5 linked regions of the Homo sapiens genome follow. The protein of the gene in region 2 purifies or fractionates together with the protein of the main gene of each other region. This does not show direct contact. Each region holds a gene or a part of one and is shown on either strand. Other genes may lie near its edges. The genes, in order: INAVA, HLTF, ANAPC16, PPP2R2C and RFC2.

What was found.
Region 1: the proteins of HLTF (region 2) and INAVA fractionate together in Homo sapiens (co-fractionation; one large-scale study listed by BioGRID). This does not show direct contact.
Region 3: the proteins of HLTF (region 2) and ANAPC16 purify together in Homo sapiens (affinity purification with mass spectrometry; one large-scale study listed by BioGRID and IntAct). This does not show direct contact.
Region 4: the proteins of HLTF (region 2) and PPP2R2C purify together in Homo sapiens (co-immunoprecipitation; one large-scale study listed by IntAct). This does not show direct contact.
Region 5: the proteins of HLTF (region 2) and RFC2 purify together in Homo sapiens (affinity purification with mass spectrometry, with the first as the bait; one large-scale study listed by BioGRID). This does not show direct contact.

Annotation. Positions count from the first base shown.
Region 1 is NC_000001.11:200,913,384-200,917,048, forward strand, and holds the end of INAVA (innate immunity activator protein), read left to right. Parts: intron 1-153; coding exon 154-246; 3' UTR 247-2,359; downstream 2,360-3,665. UniProt on the Homo sapiens protein: Expressed in peripheral macrophages and intestinal myeloid-derived cells, is required for optimal PRR (pattern recognition receptor)-induced signaling, cytokine secretion, and bacterial clearance.
Region 2 is NC_000003.12:149,030,997-149,034,942, forward strand, and holds part of HLTF (helicase-like transcription factor), read right to left. Parts: coding exon 3,922-3,946; intron 1,377-3,921; coding exon 1,224-1,376; 3' UTR 1-1,223. UniProt on the Homo sapiens protein: Has both helicase and E3 ubiquitin ligase activities. Possesses intrinsic ATP-dependent nucleosome-remodeling activity; This activity may be required for transcriptional activation or repression of specific target promoters.
Region 3 is NC_000010.11:72,228,878-72,233,870, forward strand, and holds part of ANAPC16 (anaphase-promoting complex subunit 16), read left to right. Parts: intron 1-1,488; coding exon 1,489-1,563; intron 1,564-4,123; coding exon 4,124-4,239; 3' UTR 4,240-4,993. UniProt on the Homo sapiens protein: Component of the anaphase promoting complex/cyclosome (APC/C), a cell cycle-regulated E3 ubiquitin ligase that controls progression through mitosis and the G1 phase of the cell cycle.
Region 4 is NC_000004.12:6,465,271-6,470,263, reverse strand, and holds part of PPP2R2C (protein phosphatase 2, regulatory subunit B, gamma), read left to right. Parts: intron 1-4,993. UniProt on the Homo sapiens protein: The B regulatory subunit might modulate substrate selectivity and catalytic activity, and might also direct the localization of the catalytic enzyme to a particular subcellular compartment.
Region 5 is NC_000007.14:74,243,383-74,248,375, reverse strand, and holds part of RFC2 (replication factor C subunit 2), read left to right. Parts: intron 1-1,612; coding exon 1,613-1,714; intron 1,715-4,993.

The sequences.
Region 1 (3,665 bases), on a different chromosome or scaffold from region 2:
TGGGAGGAAGGGGCTGAGTGCCAGGGCCTGCTGCTGCTGCTGCTTCTGCTGGTCAGTGTCCCTAAGGGATAAGGATGGTGTAACTGTGCCTGCTGTCCCCGCTTTTCTGCCTGGTTCATTTACCCACCTGTCCTTTCTTCCTGACCCTGGCAGGTGCCCACAGTTTGTGTGCTGCGGAGATCGCCTGATGGGGCCCCTGTGCAAGTCTTTGTACCTGAAAAAGGAGAGATCATCAGCCAGGTGTAACTCTGCGCCCCACGCTGGAAAAAACTGTTTCATAGAGGGGCTGGGCTGAGACCCCCCCACCCCTGAGTGCCTCTTTCAGCTCCCCCATCCCCATCGCAGGCCGATGACCTGGAGCTGAGACCTTTTATTATTTTTTTTTTACACGACTTTTTTCAGAAGCCCTGACCTAAGGATTTATATATGTGGATTGTCCTCAATACCCCTGTGATATGATTATGTTTTATCCCCCAGAGTTTGGCCTACTGGACTTAAGGCCTTGCCTGTCTGACTGACAGCCTCTATCTCCTTATATAAGACAAGTGGCAGGGGACGAGTGAAGCAGAGTGAGCCACCTTGGGAGTTCTCCAACGCTCTGTGCTCTGGTTCTAAGAAATTCCCTGGGGAACTGCCCCTGGCCCTCCTGTCCCACTATTGCTGGAGGCTGGACATGGTACATACTCATGCACATGACTCTCCCCCATTTCCCAGGTCTCTGGGTACCCCAGCCTGGGCTGGGGGAGAATCTCTTCCCCCTTTTCTAATGTGCTCTGTGATGCACACACCAAGTGGTAGGTCAAAGGTCAGTATATCCCGGTGGTGTATTGTCTTGCTAGACCCTGCTATTTTCCTGACCCCCTAAATCCTCTTTAGGGACCCAGTCACTATACCCTGTCTATGCCCTGTGGGCTCCCAGACCCCTGAGCTTTGAGTCAGTGGCATCACAGTTTGTAGCCTCAGGGGGTCTGGCTGGGGGCTGGTCCATGCTTGTGGTTAGTGGACAGCAGCCACCCTTTGACAGCTACCTCTGGGCATCTCAAGGGCTTGCAGCCCCACTGCTCCTTCTAACATTTTGTTTGTTTTTGAGATGGAGTCTCGCTCTGTCGCCCAGGCTGGAATGCTGTAGCAAGATTTCGGCTCACTGCAACCCCCGTCTCCCGGGTTCAAGCGAATCTCCTGCCTCAGCCTTCCGAGTAGCTGGGATTACAGGCAAGCACCACCATGCCTGCTAATTTTTTATTTTTAGTAGAGATGGGGTTTCATCATGTTGGCCAGGCTGGTCTCGAACTCCTGACCTCAAGTGATCCACCTGCCTTGGCCTTTCAAAGTGCTGGGATTACAGGCATGAGCCACCGCACCTGGCCCTTCTAACGTTTTTTCATCATAGTCCCAAAAACCAATACTTTACAAGTGGTTTTGGAAAGGCACCACTTTTGTGGCATGTTCTGGTTGGGAGAGGGAGTCACAGTTCCTACTCCCCCCACCAGCTATGCTTCTGCTCTGAGAAGGTGGTTATTTATACAAACATGGACATACTCACTCCCAAGGGCTGATGAGATGCTGAATTTTCTTTGGGGGCATTCATTAATTGTCCCAGCTGCAGCGACTGGAGCAAGTCTGGAAGCTGCCTGTGCTAAGACCACCCAGCTGTCCCTGGGTTCTCATCCTAGGGCCTTCTTTGCTTCCAGGTCAGGGGACCTGCTTCAATGAGAAAGCAACTGAATTGAGGCTAGGAGAGGTAGGGAGAGCTGAGTTCTGACTTCACCTGTGCAGAACTCTCTGCCCCCATGTTACCTGGACTGGAACAGACTGTGAATATAGCAGAAGGTTCCAAGAACTCTGGTGTCTGACCTAGAAGAGGCACAGTTCTCTCTACTGGAAAGAAAACGATGTAGCCGATTGCACAAGGGTGCCAAGGGAAGACCCAGGATGGCCCATCAAAGGAACCTGGGGGAGGATGCAGGAGGCTGAAGGGATGCACCTGGCATTTCTCTCACTGTGCTCTTACCGCATCAGCAACCCCCAACTTTTGGGCCTACTCTGCCCCCCATGCGTGAATACCCTGCTTGGATGCTGTGCTTTTCCGGTTTGTCTCTAAGCCCCTTTCTCCAGGGCATGTTGGTTTCCCTGGCCTCTCAGTGTCCTAACTGGAGCCCAGAGTGCCTTGTTCTGAGCCAGGAGACGGCTGAGCACTGGCCCTCCACACCTAAGCGTCCTTTACATTAACTTATTGGTCTTGTATAACACCTGGTGCCATTGCCAAGTGGCTGTGTCCTCAGCTACAGAGCTGGAATTGTGTGGGGTTTAGTGCTAAATACTTCAATAAAGTCTGTTTTTTGTGATTGGCTGAGCTGGGGATGAGGGATTTTTTATTTTTATTTATTTTTATTTTTTGGTGTGTGTGTGTGTGTGTGTGTGTGTGTGTGTGCGCGCGCGCGCGCGCCAGGTTTCCCCGAGCAGAGGCTGAGCCCGGCCCCCTGGGCTGCCCGCCAAGGTGGCCAAGTTGCCCGGCCCCTCCAGCTGGTCTGGCCAGGTCCCTGGGGAGCTGGTGTGATGGGTTGGGTGGTAGAGGGAGGCTCTCAGATTCTCTGCTTCCGGGGCAGGGTGGAAGCCAGCACAACCCCTGTCAAGGCTCCTTACAGCCTCTTCAGCTTGAGGAGCTGGCCTGTGGGAGTCACTTCCCCAAGGACAGGGCACTGGCCAGGCAGAGGGTAGAGATGGGTGGCTCAGCGCCTCCAAGCCATTCCTGGAGCTTTGACTGCCCGGAGCCCAGGCTCATGAGAAACAGCCCCTTCCCCATACCTGGAAGACTGGGACCCCTCCTTGGGGTGGTGAGGAGGCGGGGCTCTCCGCAGGCCCCTCCCCCATCGGCAAGAGTGCCCACAGCCCCTCCGCTGCCTGGGGTCCCACTGAGGCCAGGGGCGGGGAGCGCCACCTTGGACACTTCCGTGCTTGCCCTGCAGGGACCGCTCCAGGGCCCCGGAGCACAGCGCCCCCTGGAGAGGCTGTGCCCGGACCTGAGGCGCCGGCGTGTCAGGTAAAGGGGTCCCCCTTCCCGCCAGTTCCCTCCACAGCCAAGGAAGGGGCGGGGAAGGGCCCCGGCCCTCGCTGCCCAAGGGGCGCCTCCAGCCTTGCCTGGGTGCGGCCCTGGGGGCCGCGGGGATCTGTGGGCCTCAGGGGTCTGGGGCACTCCATTCTTGGGGAAGGTAGGGGAGGGGAGACGGCTCCAGGGTCTCTGGAGAAGTTGTGGGGTATCCTGATCTCAGACCTGAGCGCTTCGACCTATTATTTGTGGGGAATGGGGCGCTGGATTCTGTATTTTAGACGATGGTGAGTTAGGCCCGGGGAAAACAGGGTGAGCAAGTTCCCAGGGGATGACCTGTCCAAGGGGCAGCTCCCAACAACAGGACAGAGACCAGCTAAGAGGGGGGATACAAAAGAGACGGACACAGGGGCAGAGCAAGGCCCTTTAAGGCAGTGAGCGATGGGACGCGCCCGTTTGGGGACCCGAAGTGCAGGGCGGTGAGAGAACCAGGTTGCACAGCAGTTTCTTCCTGGTCCACCAGCAGGCTTCCCTGGGCCATGTCTGGGAGGGGCAGACATGTGGGGGCTCTTAGCTCCCCTACCATAGGGCAGAAGTAAGGTTATGAATTAGGGGGTGG
Region 2 (3,946 bases):
TTGTTTGTTAGAGTAATTAATCTTTCTTTGGATTAAAGTTTCCCTTTGAAATAAAACCACCTACCTAATCTGACTGCTAAATTTCTAGCTTCTTTGTTTTAAATATGCTCAGGAGTCAACCCAAATTCTGCAGCAAATAAGTTTGCTTATTAACAAAAAAGTAAAAAAAAAAGAAAAGAAAAAAGATGACTAATTCTACAGATAGCTGTAAGGATGAATTACTCAAGTTCAAAATCAAATTCTGATTCTAAACACATAACAATTGTTTACATTCAGGATTAAGATGTCTTTAAGAGTTGAAACGACTTTGGAGATCATCCAGCCCAACTTCCATCCAGATATCACGCCTCTCACATATAGTAGTCTTCTGAATTATAAAAATTTATAAAGTTACTTCCAAAAAAAGCTACATAAATAAAAATTATCTATTTATAGAAATATCTATTTAGCAGTTCCATAATTTAAAATATTCAAATCAAATTGGGTAGGACTGGTTTGCCTCTCACTCCCACAGACTATATTTATACCTCAGACACAGCAAGTTACATTTAAACAATGAGTGTAGTACTACTTAACTAAAATGGAAAAAATAGTACTCTTAACATAATCCCTAATTTTTTCATGAACATAAAACTCCAAGTCATTTATGTGAACTATATCTCAATGTAGCTGTAGGAAAAATAAAAACCTGTGCTAACCTGGACTTTGGTCTCATTTAAGATTTGGTTCTGGAATGCAAATATGGTTTTTGAAAGCCCAATAAAATTAATTCTTGTATAGTCTGTATATATTGTTTACAAGGACTACAAACACTGCATCACAAATCGGAGGCTTTGGTAAATAACTAAGTGTCCAACATAGAAAATAACTATTTGGTCAAAAGTATAAAAGGTCTGACCTTATTTGAAATACGAAAAAGCTGAGTACTTGGAAGATACGTGAAAATACTCAGCATAGATATTATGAAAAGCTGAATAACAAAGTAACCTTTTTTCTCAAATTATTTCAGGCCACAGTATATAACGGAACTTATTGCTATTTGAAGTTTCATTAAAAATAGGTTCATATATAGAAGAAATTGTGTCAGTAATACCTCTTCACTAATATAAAATATGCCCCTTTTAGAAGACGTGTTCTCTAGATCTCATTTCTAAAACTCTGTATTTTTCTCATTTCTAAAACTTAAGTATCCAATCAAACTGACCTTACTAAAATCCCACAAATTATAAGTCAATTAATGTTCTGATTTCATTAATTTTGGCTTGTTTCATTTCGTCAGCATTTGGTTTTTTAGTTCCAAAGGCTCCTGCTGCAAGTTCTCTCTTTTTGTTTTGTATTTTCAGCATATTTTCTTCAACAGAGTCCTTTACAATGAACTTTAAAAAGAAAAAAAAAAGTTAAGTAGTTTTTAAGGCATAGTATTTAAAATCTTTATTAAAAAAACTAAATGAAAGATTTGCCTAATGGCAAAAACCGCAATTACTTTTGCACCAAACTATAATAACTATTTAATAGAACTGAACTTTGCTTTCCTTACCCAATATGGTTTTCTTATATAAAGAATATGGCTGTACGAATAGAAGTTACAGATCACAAGATAAGCAAAGCAATAAAGAAAAAAAAAGCAAACTATATAGGCAACTCTGGCAAAATGACTTCAGCATTGTATTAAAAAGGCCATTCTGGCCGGGCACGGTGGCTCACACCTGTAATCCCAGCACTTTGGGAGGCCGAGGCGGGCAGATCATGAGGTCAGGAGATCGAGACCATCCTGGCTAACACGGTGAAATGCCATCTCTACTAAAAAATAGAAAAAGTTAGCCGGGCATGGTGGTGGGCGCCTGTAGTCCCAGCTACTCGGGAGGCTGAGGCAGGAGAATGGTGTGAACCCGGGAGGCGGAGCTTGCAGTAAGCCGACATTGCGCCACTGCACTCCAGCCTGGGTGACAGAGCGACGTCTCAAAAAAAAAAAAAAAAAAAACAAAAAACTATTCCCAGAAATTCAAGAATGAATCTTTAGTATAATTCACAACACTAACAAAGAGAAAAATAAAACGTGATCATCTCATTCCTGATAAAAACTTGATTTTAAAATACCCCAACTAGGAATGAATGTCTCAACCTTACATATTTAATGTGAAACAATAAAAGTATTCTACAACAAAACAGAAACAAGTCAAGAATGGTCACTATCTGCTACTATTTAACATTGTTTAAGAAGACCCAATTACTGCAATAACTAAAGCTATATAATAAAATTTTACTGAAATACATATAAGATCTACATAAATGGAGAAAGGATACTATGTTCCTGTATGGAAACATTCGTTACTTATAAAGAAAGATAGTTCTCGAAAGTAATAATAAATTCAATAAATCTCAAGATATCTTAAATGGGATTTTATAACTAAAATCTAAAGTTCAATTCAAGAGCAATAATAATAACCACCAATACAATTTTCAAAAAGGGTCATCAGAACATTTTACCCTATCAGGTATCAAAACTTACTTTAGGAAACCATAGTTGTTATAAGAGTAATACTGCCCTAAGAAAAGGAAAAGAGATCAATGGAACAGAATAGTCTAGAAAAAGACCCAAGTAATATATATAAATTAGTTTATGATGAAAGTGACATTTCATACTAGTAGGGAAAAAGTTGGAATTTTCAAAGAAAAAAAATGATGTGACAGAACAAATCGTTCTTCATCTGATAAAATAATAAGCTTAGACTCATGTCACAAATCATAAAACAAAAAATAAAATCTTCCAAAAGAACCAGAAGTAAATACAGAATAGTTGAAAAAATGTGAAAATAAAGCCTTCTGTCCTAGGTAAGACCTTAAAACCTAGAACGTATAAAAAAGGCTGACGTTTTAAATCATAAAAATTTTAAAGCTTTTTCATGACCAAAAAAATGCAGTTTAAAGACAAGGAAGAGTATGGGATAAACCATTTTCAACATACATAAACAAAAGATTTCAAGTCAGACTGTATCAGGGAGTCCTTTATACTATAAAACTATTTGTACCATAACTATGAGAACTGGACAGAAGATATAAATAATTCACAGAAAAAATGTTAATAAACAAGATATGTGAAATATACTCAAGGTTTTAGGTAAATGCAAATTAGAACAGCACTTTTTTGGCCACAGAAGCATAAATTAACAATTTTCATATAAATCCTATTTTGAAACCAACTCGATAGTTGATAAAAATTCTAAATCCAGAATTCTAGTTTTCTTAACTTATCCCAAAGAATTACTTGCATCTATGTGAAAAGATTTATATATAATAATGCTCATTATGGCACTGTTTTTATTAGCAAAAAACTTAATGGGTTAAATATATTACGATATATCTATATGGTTTTGTAGAGTAGTCAAATTCAGAGAAAGAAAGTAGAATGGTAGTTGCCAGGGGCTGGGGGGAGAGGAATGGGAAGTTATTATTTAATGGATACACAGTTTCAGTTTAAGATGATGAAAAAGTTCTGGAGATGGATGATTGTGATGGCTGTTGCACAACAACATGAATGTACTTAATGCATCTAAACTGTATACTTCAAAATGGTAAATTTTGTATTTTACCACTATTTAAAAAAAGTGTTCATCTAAATGTACTTATGAGGTAGTCTCCAATGTATAGTTTTAAGGGAAACAAATATGTTGTAGAATAAAGTATAATTCCATTTATCTTTAAAAGAATGTTTTTAAGGAGATGTACACATAACTATAAATGTAGGTGCAGAGAAAGGCCCCTTAAACAGCATATATTAAATTATTGATGAAGGAGGAAAAAGGTGACTTATATTTTGCTCTGCATAATTACACTCAATCATAATAATATATTCATGCATTACTTGCTTAATTGTAAAAATCGTATCAACCTAGTCTTAAAATAGTTTGTTTAAAAACTCACTTTTGTGATGATAACTTCTTGCTTC
Region 3 (4,993 bases), on a different chromosome or scaffold from region 2:
GGTGCCTGTGATTAAATGCAAGTGAGAGGTGGCACTTTCAGGAGCTTCCATATACATCTTGGCCTGATCCTTATAGCCTATAATTCCCACTGCCTTGTGTGTAATCCTAAAGTTCAGGATCAAACCATCTGGGAGGTAAACTCTAATTGTCTATGCTTTCCTCTTTCTAAAATAAAATATGAGTTATAATTGGACTTTTTAAGCAAGAATATGAATAGGATAATGACTGCTGACATTCAAACCCCTTTTTTTTTTGAGACTGAGTTTGAATTTACAGAATGTAACACTGTCTCTGAAGAATACAAAAAGTATACATCCCAATAATTATACTTTCATTTTTTTCTTTTTCTCTTTTTTTTTTTTTTTTGATCACTTTGAAGATGATATTGGAAGGATGCCCTCTTGGTTATATATTCAAGCTCTTTGGATACAGTATCTATAGTTGTTTTTTTTTTTAATTGGTTATTGTGACTTCTGAAATAAGGTTTCCTTTGTGTGAAACTCAGCATGAGGCCAGAATGTGTTAGTCCTGTCTGCTTGCCATGTAATACCTGGCCAACACAACAACCCATGATTGATGGGTGAATGCTTGAGGCCTAGTAGTGCTAACGTGAAGTACTGCCTGAAAAAGGACAGCTGTGTCCTCTCTCCCCGTTTGTTTTAGGATTTTCGCAATAAGGTACATCCCCCAAATGGTTTCTGCTACCTTTTTAAAAATCAAATGTTTCTACGTGAGCTGTAAATTTTTGAGAATATGTTTTGCTGTATCAGCCCTTGCCTGACAAGGAATAACATGAACTAGCTTATGTTTCATGATCATCTTCCAAGTGCTGTGGCAACTGAGTTGGCCACTTCTTGTTGGCAGTTCTTGGCACCAGTACAATTCTAGGTTCTGAACTTGCACCATACTCTTATCGTCATCCAAATTGCAGTGTTTTGGTTCAGTTGGAAAATCAAGGTTACAGTTTGCGTTCACAGAATGAAATTTCCCAGCAGTGTTCTGTGATTGTCAGAGTGATGTAATTTGATATATTAAAAATCAACAATTTTTTCCTCAGCTTTGTTTTTTAGACTGAAAATGATTTGGAGTTTTGGTGAACCTTTATATTTTGACACTACAGGAGCCAGCCACAAGGCCAAATGTGTCAGCTGCCAGTGTTTGCTTGACATACAGGAGAACATTAAGGAACTCTCAGGTTGGGAGGAGGGAAGTGTTGACCAGGACATCAGACGGAGGTTTCTTGTTTTTGTTTTTTTAAACACTATTTTTAAACTCTTAAGTAGAGGGACTATTTTAATATTCTAGGTATAGAATAAATAGCTTTTATAACAGTCTTAGTTCTAAATGAAGCAGAACCCGTCTTTGTAAACACTGAGAACTAGACCCTGAATGTACAAGCAGGGAAAAGAATAGACAAGTTTACTTGGTTTATCAGAAGCCATAAAACCTTTAGAGCAGATTAAAACCTTTTCTCCTTTTGTTTGTAGATGGCTCTGAGAGATTCCTCTGCGAATCTGTTTTTAGCTATCAAGTGGCATCCACGCTTAAACAGGTGAAACATGGTAAGCACATGAGTGTTGCGTACTTGACTGTGAGAATAAATTTGCTAGGGGGTGGATGAGGCTGTGACAAAAATCCCCAAACTCAGCAAGGCTATTTTAGTGGACTTCCTAAATTAAAGAACATTCTAGGTCTTAATCTAGTCATAATGTCCACATTGAGGCTTAAGGTTGGGGCCGAGTGCAGTGGCTCACGTTTGTAATCCCAGCACTTTGGGAGGCTGAGGCGGGTGGATCACTTGAGGTCAGGAGTTTGAGACCAGCCTGGCCAACATGGTGAAACTGCATCTCTACAAAGAAAAAATTAGTCAGGCATGGTGGCGCATACCTGTAGTCCCAGCTACTTGGGAGGCTGAGGTGGGAAGATCACTTGAGCCCGGGAGGTTGAGGCTGCAATGAGCCGGAATCACAGCACTGCACTCTAGCCTGTGCAACAGAGACCCTGTCTGAAAAACAAAAAAAGTTGGTCCTCCAGGGAGTCAGTGCTTCCTGCTCCTCTTGTGTTACTTTTTCCTCTCCTGTCTGAAACCTCCTTTTACTGTTGTCCTCCACTGGTTACCATCATCATCTTCAAGTATTTGTACGATACCTCCTGGTCTGTCTATACTCTAACATCCTGATAACACTTTTTCTGTTACATTAGGCCTCACCAGGCCTTCATTTCTGCATCAACAAACTGTGTTCCCCCTCCAGACCATTTCTCCATTGAAACTTTATGTAGGGGGAAAAGCTGTAATTGCCTCTAACCCTAGGATTTTAGTCCACAAATCACTATGGCATAGAGGATGAGTACTTTTTTTAGGAACAGAGCACATCCAGGCCGGGTGCAGTAGCTCATGCCTCTAATCCCAGCACGTTGGGAGGCTGAAGCAGGAAGACTGCTTGAGCCCAGGAGTTCAAGACTGACCTGGGCAACATGGTGAAACCCCATATCTAAAAAAAGAAAATACAAAAATTAGTGGAGAATGGTGGTGCATGCCTGTGGTCCCAGCTACGTGGGAGGCTGAGTTGGGACGATCGCTTCAGCCCAGGAGGCATACTCCAGCCTTGGTGACAGAGTGAGACCCTGTCTCTGGAAAAAAATAGGGCACATCCTGAAAATGTGATCATTTTATTTTAAAATGACTTTTATTTTTTGAGACGGAGTCTCTCACTGTCACCCGGGCTGGAGTGCAATGGCATGATCGCGGCTCACTGCAACCTTTGCCTCCTGGGTTCAAGTGATTCTCCTTCCTCAGCCTCACAAATAGCTGGGACTACAGGTGCACGCCACCACGCCCAGCTAATTTTTGTATTTTTAGTAGAGATGGGGTTTCACCATGTTGGCCAGGATGGTCTTGATCTCTTGACCTTGTGATCCGCCTGCCTTGGCATCCCAAAGTGCTTGGATTACAGGCATGAGCCACTGCGCCCAGCCTTTCTTCTTTTAACATTAGAAGAAACTTCCAACTTAAAAAAAAAAAAATAGGCCGGGCACGGTGGCTCATGCCTATAATCCCAACAATTTGGGAGGCTGACACGGGCGGATCACCTGAGGTCGGGAGTTCGAGACTGGCCTGACCAACATGGAGAAACCCCATCTCTACTAAAAATACAAAATTAGCCAGGCATGGTGGCATATGCCTGTAATTCCAGCTACTCGGGAGGCTGAGGCAGCAGAATCGCTTGGACCCAGGAGACAGAGGTTGCAGTGAGCTGAGATCACACCATTGCACTCCAGCCTGGGCAATAAGGGTGAAACTCTGTCTCAAAAAAAAAAAAAAAAAAAAAAAAAAATTAAGCTTCTGACCAGCATAGAATAAGACCCCATTATGAGAATTTTGAGGGTCGGGCACAGTGGCTCACGTCTGTAATCCCAGCACTTTGGGAGGCTGAGGCAGGCAGATCACCTGAGGTCAGGAGTTCGAGACTAGCCTGGCCAACATGGTGAAACCCCATCTCTACAAAAATAAAAAACTTAGCTGGGCACGATGGCGGGTGCCTGTAGTCCCAGCTACTCAGGAGGCTGAGGCGGGAGAATCACTTGAACCCACGAGGCAGAGGTTTCAGTGAGCCGAGATCGCGCCATTGCACTGCAGCCTGGGCAACAAAGCAAGACTCCATTCCCCACCCCCACCCCACCCCCCAAAAAAAGAGAGAGAATCTTGAGGAGAAAAAAAAATCCATCTAGAAATTTTTTTTTTTTGAGACGGATTCTCACTCTGTCACCAGGCTGGAATGCAGTGGCACGATCTCGGCTCACTGCAACCTCTGCCTCCAGGGTTCAAGCGATTCTCCTGCCTCAGCCTCCCGAGTAGCTGGGACTACAGGCGCATGCCACCACGTCCAGCTAATTTTTTTTGTATTTTTATAGAGATGGGGTTTCACCATATTGGCCAGGATGGTCTCGATCTCTTGACCTCGTGATCCGCCCGCCTCGGCCTCCCAAAGTGCTGGGATTATAGGCGTGATCCACCACACCCGGCCTAGAAATTATTTTTATACCAGTCATCATCTTGGTGGCTGGTGGCAGTCTCTTGGGTAATACGTTGTTGCATAATATTCTTTCCTTGACTCCTTACAGATCAGCAAGTTGCTCGGATGGAAAAACTAGCTGGTTTGGTAGAAGAGCTGGAGGCTGACGAGTGGCGGTTTAAGCCCATCGAGCAGCTGCTGGGATTCACCCCCTCTTCAGGTTGATACTGCCTGGATGGTCACCTCTGGTGCGCAGCAAGTGCAAAGCCAGTGGGGGACTTTCTCACAGCTTACATAGCCATCCAGAGATCCACAGCTACGTCACTGAATTGTTAATGCACATTTGTACTTGGTTTCTCTGTATCTATTCACAGGCAACAAATACTTATATGTGTGATCTTTCAGGGAATGTTTTGTTTATTTGTTTTTAAAAGTATTGGGAATCAGATTAAGACAATCAGTTTCAGAGAACCAGGAGGTTTGGGGTTAAGAGATACTCAAAAATTTTCACAAGCCAAGTAGGGCATATATCAGATTTGGCCAACTGAATGGCGTCTGTCCTGTCATCCATATGGTGCCTGGAAATATTTACCAGTCAAGGTCAAGGTCAGCATCTGTGGTTAAAAATATAGCATTCTGACCTAAAAAAGTTATTTTGCAGATGAATGTGTTTTCAACTCAGGACCTATCCAAATGAGGAATTTTTAAATATTCTTTTTTTTTTCCTATTTTTAGACATCAATTCTATAGATTCTGACTTTTTCTAACCTCTTATAGACATGCCAAATGCTGGCAAAAAGAAGTGCTTTTTGGATATGGCAGCACTTGTAAAAATAAAGCAGTAAGCAAAATCCTTTTAAACACAGAAATCCTGAGTTCTTCTCATTGGTGGACTCAAGCAATTCTGTAGCAAATAAATCCTTTGAAAGAGCTCCAAATTGGTGGCATTATCCTTTCAAAATCTCAGGGATTTGGGATG
Region 4 (4,993 bases), on a different chromosome or scaffold from region 2:
ACTGTTTTATCCCTGGGGACTGGACAAAGACTCCCTGCCCTTGTGCGGCCTGAATTCTATCAGGGAGCTATATGACCTTGAGGTCTGTCTTCTCACCAGGGCTCAGTCTCCCCATCTGTAAAATGGGAGTGAATCCTGCCTACAGGGTCTGGAGGTTTCTGTGAGGAGCAGGTGCAACGGTGTTGAAGGAGCCGTTCAGAGCTATGCATTGCTAACGTGCAGCCAAAGGATGCTGAGCACCTGCTGTGTGCTGGGACCTCATACGAAGGCTCACCTACGCCTTATCCCCACCTTGAGATGAACAAACCAAGGCCTGGCCTTGTGCCTGGTCCAGACCGAGTGCCAGTGTGTGCAGGGCATAGGGCTCAGGTGCTGCGGATGCAGAGAGCAGGATCGGAACAAGAAACAATAATAATCATTATAATAGGTAGAATTCTGGCCTCCCTAATGAAAAACACACTTTCACACTGTTGCATCCTGACTATATTTCATGCTCAGAGCACAGGGAAGGTCACAGATTTGAATGTCAGAATGTCAGACTTGAATCATGTTAAAGTCCTGCCTCTGACTCCTGACTGCTGTGCAGCCTTGGACAAGTTACTACACCTTCCTGAGCTTCACTTTCCCTTTGTAAAGGGAGAAATAATAACGACCTTTCATACAGGGTTGCTGGGATGATCAGTGATTTTGCTAATATCAAAAGTGCCCAGCACAGTGCTTGGGTTGTTGGAGGCATTGAACACATGGCATTGTTATTATTTATATGCCTTGTAACTGGAAGAGCCTGTGGGCAAACAGTGGATGCTAAAATTCAGTTTGCGGAAGAACCAGGTGCACAAACTCCTGTTCTACCTGTGGTTGAGTCTACACTCCCCCACCACACCCCAGCTGCTCTGATCTACCTCCTGTTCCTTGAGCAGGCCATTTTCTTTCTTGCTTCAGGGCGTTTGCAATGGCTGTTGCCTGGAATACCCACCTCCTGCCTTTCTCACCACTGACTCTTTCTCATCCTTTGGGCCCCATGTCCAATGTCATCTTTGCCCGTGGGAGCCCTGCTTGGGTTCCTGAGTCTCTTGTAAAATCTCAAACATCTTAGGAAGAGTTTAGGTTTTGTTAGTCATTCACATCTTGGTGTGAATTCGTCAGAGCAGGTTGGATTTTTTTTTTTTTTTTTTTTTTTTTTTTTGGTGGCAGGGCTGGGTGGCTTACTCTTGGCTGGGCTCAACTGCATTGAGGGTTATGGTGATGATTAGGTGTACCTGCAGGCCACCTGGGGGCACAGAGAACTTTGCATGAATGGGGTCAGGGTGTGGGGAGAGCAGTGCAGCTGATAGGGCACTGGGCCCTGGGCCCTGGACCCTGGAGGGTGCTAGGAAGTCTCCATCTAGTTAGACATTTCTCAAGAGCTGGATATGGTTCCAGGAAGGACTCTTCCTGGCTCTGTTCTTTCTCTTTTTGCGGCAGGCCTCAGTACTTAGCTTTAGAGTGAGTTGAATAAGCACTTCCAGACTAGACTGAACTTACAAAACCCATCCATCCTTCCTTTGCTTAGCACCATTTGCCAAGCACATCCTGCCCTGGGCAGCAGTGATGACCAAGACACAGGAGCTCAGCCAAGGGGAGGTGGTTCAGGCTGACCAGGTAGATCCTGGCAGTGACTGGGTCTTTCTGGGGAGCAACAGTCACTCTCATGTGCCTGACAGGTAAGGCACTTCCGGAGCACACTTTTCAGCTGAGGCCAGAGGCACAGCTTCCCCTTGTTTGAGCATCTCAGCCATCACACACTGTTGGACACTCATGCTTTTTGCATCTGCATAAAGGATGTACCCATGTTTTCCTAACTCCCATCCCTGGATGTCCTGTGTGATTTCAGAGTAGTCTGTTTATTCCCACAGAGTTGTCCTGATTTTATAGTTGAGGAAGTGAAGGATGCTTGGGAATTGCTAAGGTCATCATGGGGTCCTGAGGCTGTCTGAACGCAGCAGGCAGGCAGGTTTTCCTGCATGGAATTGTCTGCAGGTTTTGAACTGGTTGTGCCCTGGATACCATCTACTTTCTGCCCAGGAAACCACACTGAAGAGGGGATGCTGCTTGTGGGAGACTCAGCATTCAGTGAAATCTGCACCCTTATGGTGGACGTTGCAGCTGATCTCCACAACAGTTAGTCTCTCTTCTTCCAAGGAGAACACATATGGTTCCTAGTAAGAGATCTCAGGCCATAGCTGGATGTGATCAGTGCAAGGATGATCTCATTCCCCTTGCAGTGACTGGTTCCAGAATGGATGTGGGAGTCAGTTCTGGAGGTTGAGTGGAAAGTAGGGAGAACCACAGGTAGTTGGTCCCTCTCTTGTGATGGGAACAGGGAAACCTTGTGGTGGCTGGCAGCCATCTGACACCATGAGGGGAGCAAGTCTTAGGCCACCACCGTTGATGGCAGGGCAGAGAGTGAGTGAGATCCAGGACATAGAGGCCTGATGTCCAGGCCGCCTCTGAACTTCCAGTTACATGAGCTGTTACTTTTCCTTTTCGTTGTGCACTTTCAAGTCTCCGTTACTTGCAGCCCATAGCACCCCAACTCGTACAGCCCTGACTGCTTATCAAGAAAACCAGGAGGCTGATCTGTAACCCACAGCTAAGACTCGAGATACATAAAACCCAGAGGGATTTTTGTTTGCTTTCTGTTTTGAGAACCCTCTTTCATTTCACTCAAGTCAAGGTTGCCAATTTCTGGTTTTCCCTCCTCAGTCCTATTGAGGAGGTATTTTTGGTCAGATAAGAGAGCCTGAGATCTGGCATCGGGAGATCTGGGTTCCTGGTGGGGTCTGACCCTGGGTCTGTAATATTGGGCAGGTCACACGGTCTCTCTGAGCCTCAGTTTATTCTTAATAGATCAGTAAGTGATGATGTCTATTCTTTAGGGGCCAGAGTTAGACTAGCCCTTAGAACTGTCATCAGACTGGCTAGCCTAACTTCCACCCCAACCTATGGGGAAACTGAGGCTAAGAGGGGGGACATTAGTGGTGGCACAGAGGGAGATTAGGGAGAGTCAGCCTTTGACTTTTGAAAATCAAGATGTGGACTGTTCAGATTCTGTGTTCCTTTCGCTTCTGTTTGGAAACGCCACTTACATAAGCTTCCCTTGGGCTTCACAGCGAGTGTGGGCTCCATTTCAGTGCTGGGGTGCCCTCCATCAAATCACATCACTTTCTGAGCCTCAGTTTCCCTGCACTGCCTGGTGCCCTGGGTTGTCATGAGGCTGTAAGGAGCCAAGGGCATGTGGACTCTGAAGTTCTACACGTGTAAAAGGCGACTGCTGTCAATTTCCCCAAATTGTAGTGTAGGCCAACTCCCACGCCCCTGCTGTAAGCAATGTGCTCCTTTCTTTTTAATCAACCCGAACTTAAAGCTTGGCGCAGTCACAGAGCACGGTTTTTCTCATTTTCTTTCTGGAAGATGAAAATCAAATTCTAATAAAATTTTTCCACTCCATCTCCTGACTGTTGTCATTTGCTACACTTTTTAGTGTTTATCCTTAAAGCTTGCAGAGCTAAGGGATGTTTGGTAAGAAGTGTTTAGGCCTTGAGACTGGAAGAGCCGCTGTATGAAGCGCTAGGCTCCATGGAGAGTGTGATGGGGAGTAAGAGAAGGAGAGTGAACTCCTGTGAGTCCACCAAGCAGAGGGACATACTCTCAGCAACTGGGGTATTTCCTTCCAGTCTTTTTTTAATGCCCATGTCTGTTTTTAATGAAAACTGTAATCTGTCTGTATCAACAATTTTGAAGGCTACTTTTCTAGTTTGGCATGAGATTATAGGAATTTTCCAGGGCTTTGCTCCAGGGCTGGCTTCATGGATATGCAACCTGTGTGGTCATCTAGGTCCCCACACTCAGAAGGACCTGTGCTTGGGTTCATGTTCTGCTGTTACTATCTTGAAATTTTTAAGAATTTCACTTTGGATCCTGTGTTTTGTAAGCGAAATCTGATGGGACGGGGGAGCCTGGGAATGAGCAGAGGGGTACGTGTGGCAGGCGAGTCTGTGGTTACACATATTGGCTCCCACAGCACGCTACCCTGTGTTCACTTGAGCGTCTGAGCCCCATGCACAGTGGACAGCTCATGCACCTTCTCAGTGCGTCTGTAGTTTCACAGGCAGGGGCCATGCTTTCAAATAATGCTCCAAGGCATTGATGTTCTCATGCAGTGACTTCTAAGAAACATGAATGACGCAGGAACCCTATGGTGTCCTTTCTTAACGTGTGTTACGTGCCCATATTTGCCAATCGCTGACACTGAAAATGATTACACAGAAGGGAAGGGAAAAAGAGGGCACCTATAGTTCCTTTTCCTCCTAGTCCTTCCTTGTTTATTATTGAACCAAGGGTAGAGGGTGTTGGAAGAATGTACACATATCCAGAAATGAAATAAGAACAGTTAAGTTAGTTTCCTCTGCTCTGGTAAGAACAAAATCCATATGCGAAATATAACTTGTGCATTTTGGTGAGTCTACATTCCAGTTACGTGCTCTTATGTTTGCATTTAAAATTGGAGGTGCACACTAGAATGGTGAGTGATAAAATGCACGCTAAGAGTTTAAGCTTTTTTTTTTTTAAATTTGAATTGACATTAAATAGCAAATAACACCATGACAAAATATGGAAGGCATGAAAAGGTTTTGTATCTTAGCACCTTTAATGATGCTTTTCCTTTGCTTTTTGAATAAGAGGCTCTGCATTTTCATTTTTCCCTGTGCCCCACGAATTATAGGGTTGGCCCTGCTCTGCTGGAACTCTGGGTAGGGTGAACTCCTTGGCCCTGCCTTCTACCTCCTTGGCTTTCGTGATTGGTGGAAATGGTGAGAGCCTGCCATCCATTGGGCAGCTCTTCCCTATGGGGAGGGGTTACAATATTAAATGTCCGTGCTCCTCTCTCACCCATTGGGTCCATGGGCCTCTGACTTCCAGGTTGCTCTACAGGGGAGAGGCCAACAGTTAT
Region 5 (4,993 bases), on a different chromosome or scaffold from region 2:
CTATAGACACATGCCACCATGCCAGCTTTTTCTTGTGGAGACGGGATCTCACTATGTTGCCCAGTCTGGTCTCGAACTCCGGGACTCAAGCGATCCTCCTTGCATCAGCCTCCCAAAGTGCTTGGATTACAGACGTGAGCCACTACACTGGGATGTTCAACCAGTAAATATAATGCAAAATTCCAAAATGTGAAAAAAAAACCCAGATCTGAAATATTTCTGGTCCCAAGCATTAGGGATAAGGGATACTCAGCCTGTATATTTAAAGTGTATGGAAGGCCGGCCAGGCATGGTGGTTCATGCCTATAATCCCAGCACTTTGGGAGGCTGAGGCAGGTGGATCGCTTGAGTCCAGGAGTTTGAGACCAGCCTAGGTGACATAATGAAACCCCATCTCTGTATAAAAGTAAAAATAAAGTGTTCTGGAGGATGTGTATAAGTTAATATGCAAATACTATACCATTTCATATAAGGGACTTGAGCAAAAGTGAATTTTGGTGTCTGAGGAAGGGCCTAGCACCAGTCCCCAGGAACACCAAGGGACAGCTGCATATTGTTCACTCCTTGATTCTTCAGTTAGGGAAAATGTCTGGAGGATATTGGCATCTGAAGATTCATAGTCTGAGATTTTGCTTATTGATCAATTTCACCATCAGTAGCATTTAGAATGTTGCTATTGGTGTCTCTGCAGTTCTGTACTGTTCTGTTCTGTTCTTTTCTTTCTTTCTTTTTTTTTGAGACAGAGTCTTGCTCTGTCACCCAGGCTGGAGTGCAGTGGCACGATCTCGACTCACCATAACCTCTGCCTTCTGGGTTCAAGCGATTCTCGTGCCTCAGCCTCCCAAGTAGCCGGGACTACAGGCGTGCGCGGGCACGCCCAGGTAATTTTTGTATTTTTAGTAAAGATGGATTTTCGCCGTGTTGGCCAGGTTGATCTTAAACTGGCCTGGAGTGGTCCGCCCACCTTGGCCTCCTAAAGTGTTGGGATTACAGGTGTGAGCCACCATGCTTGGCCTACATTGCAGTTATTTTCTGATTCACCTAATAATTAGGAAGAGTCCTCCTCTCAATTTTTTTCTCTTTCCTGTTGTGGGTAGAGAATGAAAAATTTTGAATTCTTGGCTGTGGTTAGTGAAAGCTTACAAGATAACAAAGGTGGTATATCTGCACTTCTATTACATCTTTTGAAAGATAATATGGTATCTCAAGCAATGCAGTTAAAAAACTGAAGGATGAGGCTTTTTTTTTTTTTTGAGACGAATTATCGCCAGGCTGGGGTGCAGTGGCGTGATCCCGGCTCACTGAACCTGGGAGGCAGAGCTTGCAGTGAGCCAAGAGGGCCACTGCACTCCAGCCTGGATGACACAGCGAGACCCTGTCTGAAGAAAAAAAAAAAAAAAGTGTATATTTTCTTTGTTCTTTGAAAGACCTCCAAGAAAGAACAAATGCCATAAAATCTCAATCCTTATAAATAGTTACAATTGCCCCCCAAAAAAACTCAAAAATGGAAATTGGGCCTCACAGTCCCTGATATACCGATTGTTTAAAAGTCCTTGTGAAGGCAACTGAATTGGTCTCAGAAGGTGCCAGTAAAAACCTGTCATTCTTTCAGGGGCATTGACGTTGTGAGGAATAAAATTAAAATGTTTGCTCAACAAAAAGTCACTCTTCCCAAAGGCCGACATAAGATCATCATTCTGGATGAAGCAGACAGGTAGAGTGCTTTGCCAAATGTATTTTGACCTTGATCTCTAAATCTCTTTTTCGGTTTTATTCAATCAGGATAAAAAGCACTTTTATGGTAGATTTGCTTATCATATCTTCCACAAGCAATTTAATAGGGGCCTGCACCTTAAATCTTATCTTTATTAAGTAACTTACAAACATTTGTCTAAGATAGTCATTCATTTAATGTGCTGGTTTCAGCATCTCTTACGTTAATAATTTAAATGAGGGTTTTTGTTTTTTTTTTTTTTTGAGATGGAGTTTCTCTCTGTCACTCAGGCTGGAGTATAGTGGTGTGATCTCTGCTCACTGCAACCTCCGCCTCCCGGGTTCAGGCGGTTCCCTGGCCTCAGCCTCCCAAGTATCTGGGACTACAGGCATCTGCCGCCACACCCGGCTAATTTTTGTATTTGTATTTGTATTTGTATTTGTATTTATTTATTTATTTTTTTTTTGAGACAGAGTCTCGCTCTGTCTCCCAGGCTGGAGTGCAGTGGTGCGATTTCAGCTCACTGCAACCTCCGCCTCCTGGGTTCACGTGATTCTCCTGCCTCAGCCTCCCGAGTAGCTGAGACTACAGGCATGCACCACCACGCCCAGCTGATTTTTTGTATTTTTAGTAGAGAAGGGGTTTCACCATGTTAGCCAGGGTGGTCTCAATCTCCTGACCTCGTGATCCGCCCGCCTCAGCCTCCCAAAGTGCTGGGATTACAGGCATGAGCCACCGAGCCTGGCCTAATTTTTGTATTTTTAGTAGAGATGGGGTTTCGCCATGTTGGCCAGGCTGGTCTCGAACTCCTGACTTCAGGTGATCTACCCGCCTCGGCCTCCCAAAATGCTGGGATTATAGGTGTGAGCCACTGTGCCTGGCCTGTAAATTTTTTTATTGTGGTTAAATGGACATAATTAACCATAAATTTTTTTTTTTTTTTTTTTGTGAGACGGAGTCTTGCTCTGTCGCCCAGGCTGGAGTGCAGTGGCGCAATCTTGGCTCACTGCAAGCTCCACCTTCTGGGTTCACGCCATTCTTCTGCCTCAGCCTCTCGAGTAGCTGGGACTACAGGCGCCCTCCACCACGCCCAGCTAATTTTTTTGTATTTTTAGTAGAGACGGGGTTTCACTGTGTTAGCCAGGATGGTCTTGATCTCCTGGCCTCATGATCCGCCCGCCTCGGCCTCCCAAAGTGCTGGGATTATAGGTGTGAGCCACTGCGCCCGGCCCAAAATTTACCATTTTAACTATTTTGAAGTATACAGTTCAGTGGCATTTAGTACATTTGCAATGTTGTGCAACCATCACAACACTTCGGTTGGTATAAATGAAGAATCTGAGTCCAGGCTCGGTGGCTCATGCCTGTAATCCCAGCACTTTGGGAGGCCGAGGCAGGCGGATCACCTGAGGTCGGGAGATGGAGACCAACATGGAGAAACTTCGTCTCTACTAAAAATACAAAATTAGCCAGGTGTGGTGGCACATACCTGTAATCCCAGCTACTTGGGAGGCTGAGGCAGGAGAATTGCTTGAACCCCGGAGGCGAAGGTTGTGGTGAGCTGAGATCATGCCATTTGCACTGCAACCTGGGCAACAAGAGCGAAACTCCATCTCAAAAAAAAAAAAAAAATTGAAATGACATTAAGAAAAGAATATAGAACCCTAACCCTATAACGTTGTTTTTTGTTGTAGTTTTTGAGACAGGGTCTCACTATATCACTCAGACTAGAGTCCAATGGCACAGTCATAGCTCACTGCAACCTTGAACTCCTCGGCTGTAATGATCCTCCACCTCAGCCTCCCAAGTAGCGGAGACTACAGGCTTGTGCAACTGCAACCAGCTATTTTTTTTTTCACAGGGGCAGGATCTCACTATGTTACCCAGGCTGGTCTCAAACTCCTGGCCTCAAGTGATCTGTCTGCCTCGGCCTCCCAAAGTGCTAGGATTGCAGGCATGAGGTGCTGTGCCTGGCGAAATAAATTTTTTTTAGGGCCAGGTGCGGTGGCTCACACCTGTAATCCCAGCACTTTGGGAGGCCGAGGCGGGCAGATTGCTTGAGGTCAGGAGTTCGAAACCAGCCTGGCCAACGTGGAAACCCCGTCTCTACTAAAAGTATAAAAATTAGCCGGACATGGTGGCGCCCAGGCTGGAATGCAATGGTGCTTGTAATCCCAGGTACTAAGGAGTCCAAGGCAGGAGAATCGCTTGTACCCGGGAGACAGAGGTTGCAGTGAACTGAGATGGTGCCAGTGCACACCAGCCTGGGCAACAGAGCAAGACTCTGTTTCAAAAAAAAAATTTTTTTTTTTTAATGTGGCAGTAATTCATGTTCTTTGAAGAAAATTTAGAATATATTAATAGTTTGCTGCCTTTTTATTTATTTATTTTTTTGAGGTGGAGCCTCACTCTGTTGCCCAGGCTGGAGTGCAGTGGCATGATCTTGGCTCACTGCAACCTCTGCCTCCTGGATTCAAGTGATTCTCCTGCCTCAGCCTCACGAGTAGCTGGGACTACAGACGTGCGCCACCACGCCCAGACAATTTTTTTTTTTTTTTTTTTTTTGTATTTTTAGTAGAGTTGACGTTTTGCTGTGTTGGCCAGGCTGGTCTTGAACTCCTGACCTCAAGAGAGCCACCTGCCTCGGCCTCCCAATGTGCTGGGATTACAGGCATGAGCCACTATGCCTGGCCATTAATAACTTGCTTTTTTTCTTCTCTTTTTATATACTATCAATGTTTACACAGTTGAGATCATAATATATATAATTTTTGTATCCTGGTTTTTCCTTTTAATGTTGTAGGCATTGCTCTACATTATGATAATCTGGTAAACAGGCTTTTTTGTATTTTTTAAAATTTTTTGTAGAAATAGAGGTCTTACTTTGTTGCCCAGGCTGGTCTCGAACTCCTGGTCTCAAGCGGTCCTCCCGCATCAGCCTTTTGAGATGGGAGGATTGCTTGAGCCCAGGAGTTCGAGGCTGCAGTGAGCTATGATTCCACCATTGCACTGCAGCCTGGGTGACAGCAAGAACCTGTCTCTTTAAGAAAAAAAAAAGAATAAAAAAGGAAGAAAGAAAAGTTGGCAGCTGGTGTCATGATTGTTCTCCTGAATTTGTGTCATGAAGGACTGGAGAGAACCAATTCCCACAAGTGTGATGGCAGCCCTTGTAGATCGTGGTTTTCGTGAGTTTCACTTGAGGGTTGTTCTGATGCTGTAGGTACTAAATGCTGTTTGCACAGTCTTTGAGAGAGCGGCCTGCAGGTGTTAGCATTAGAG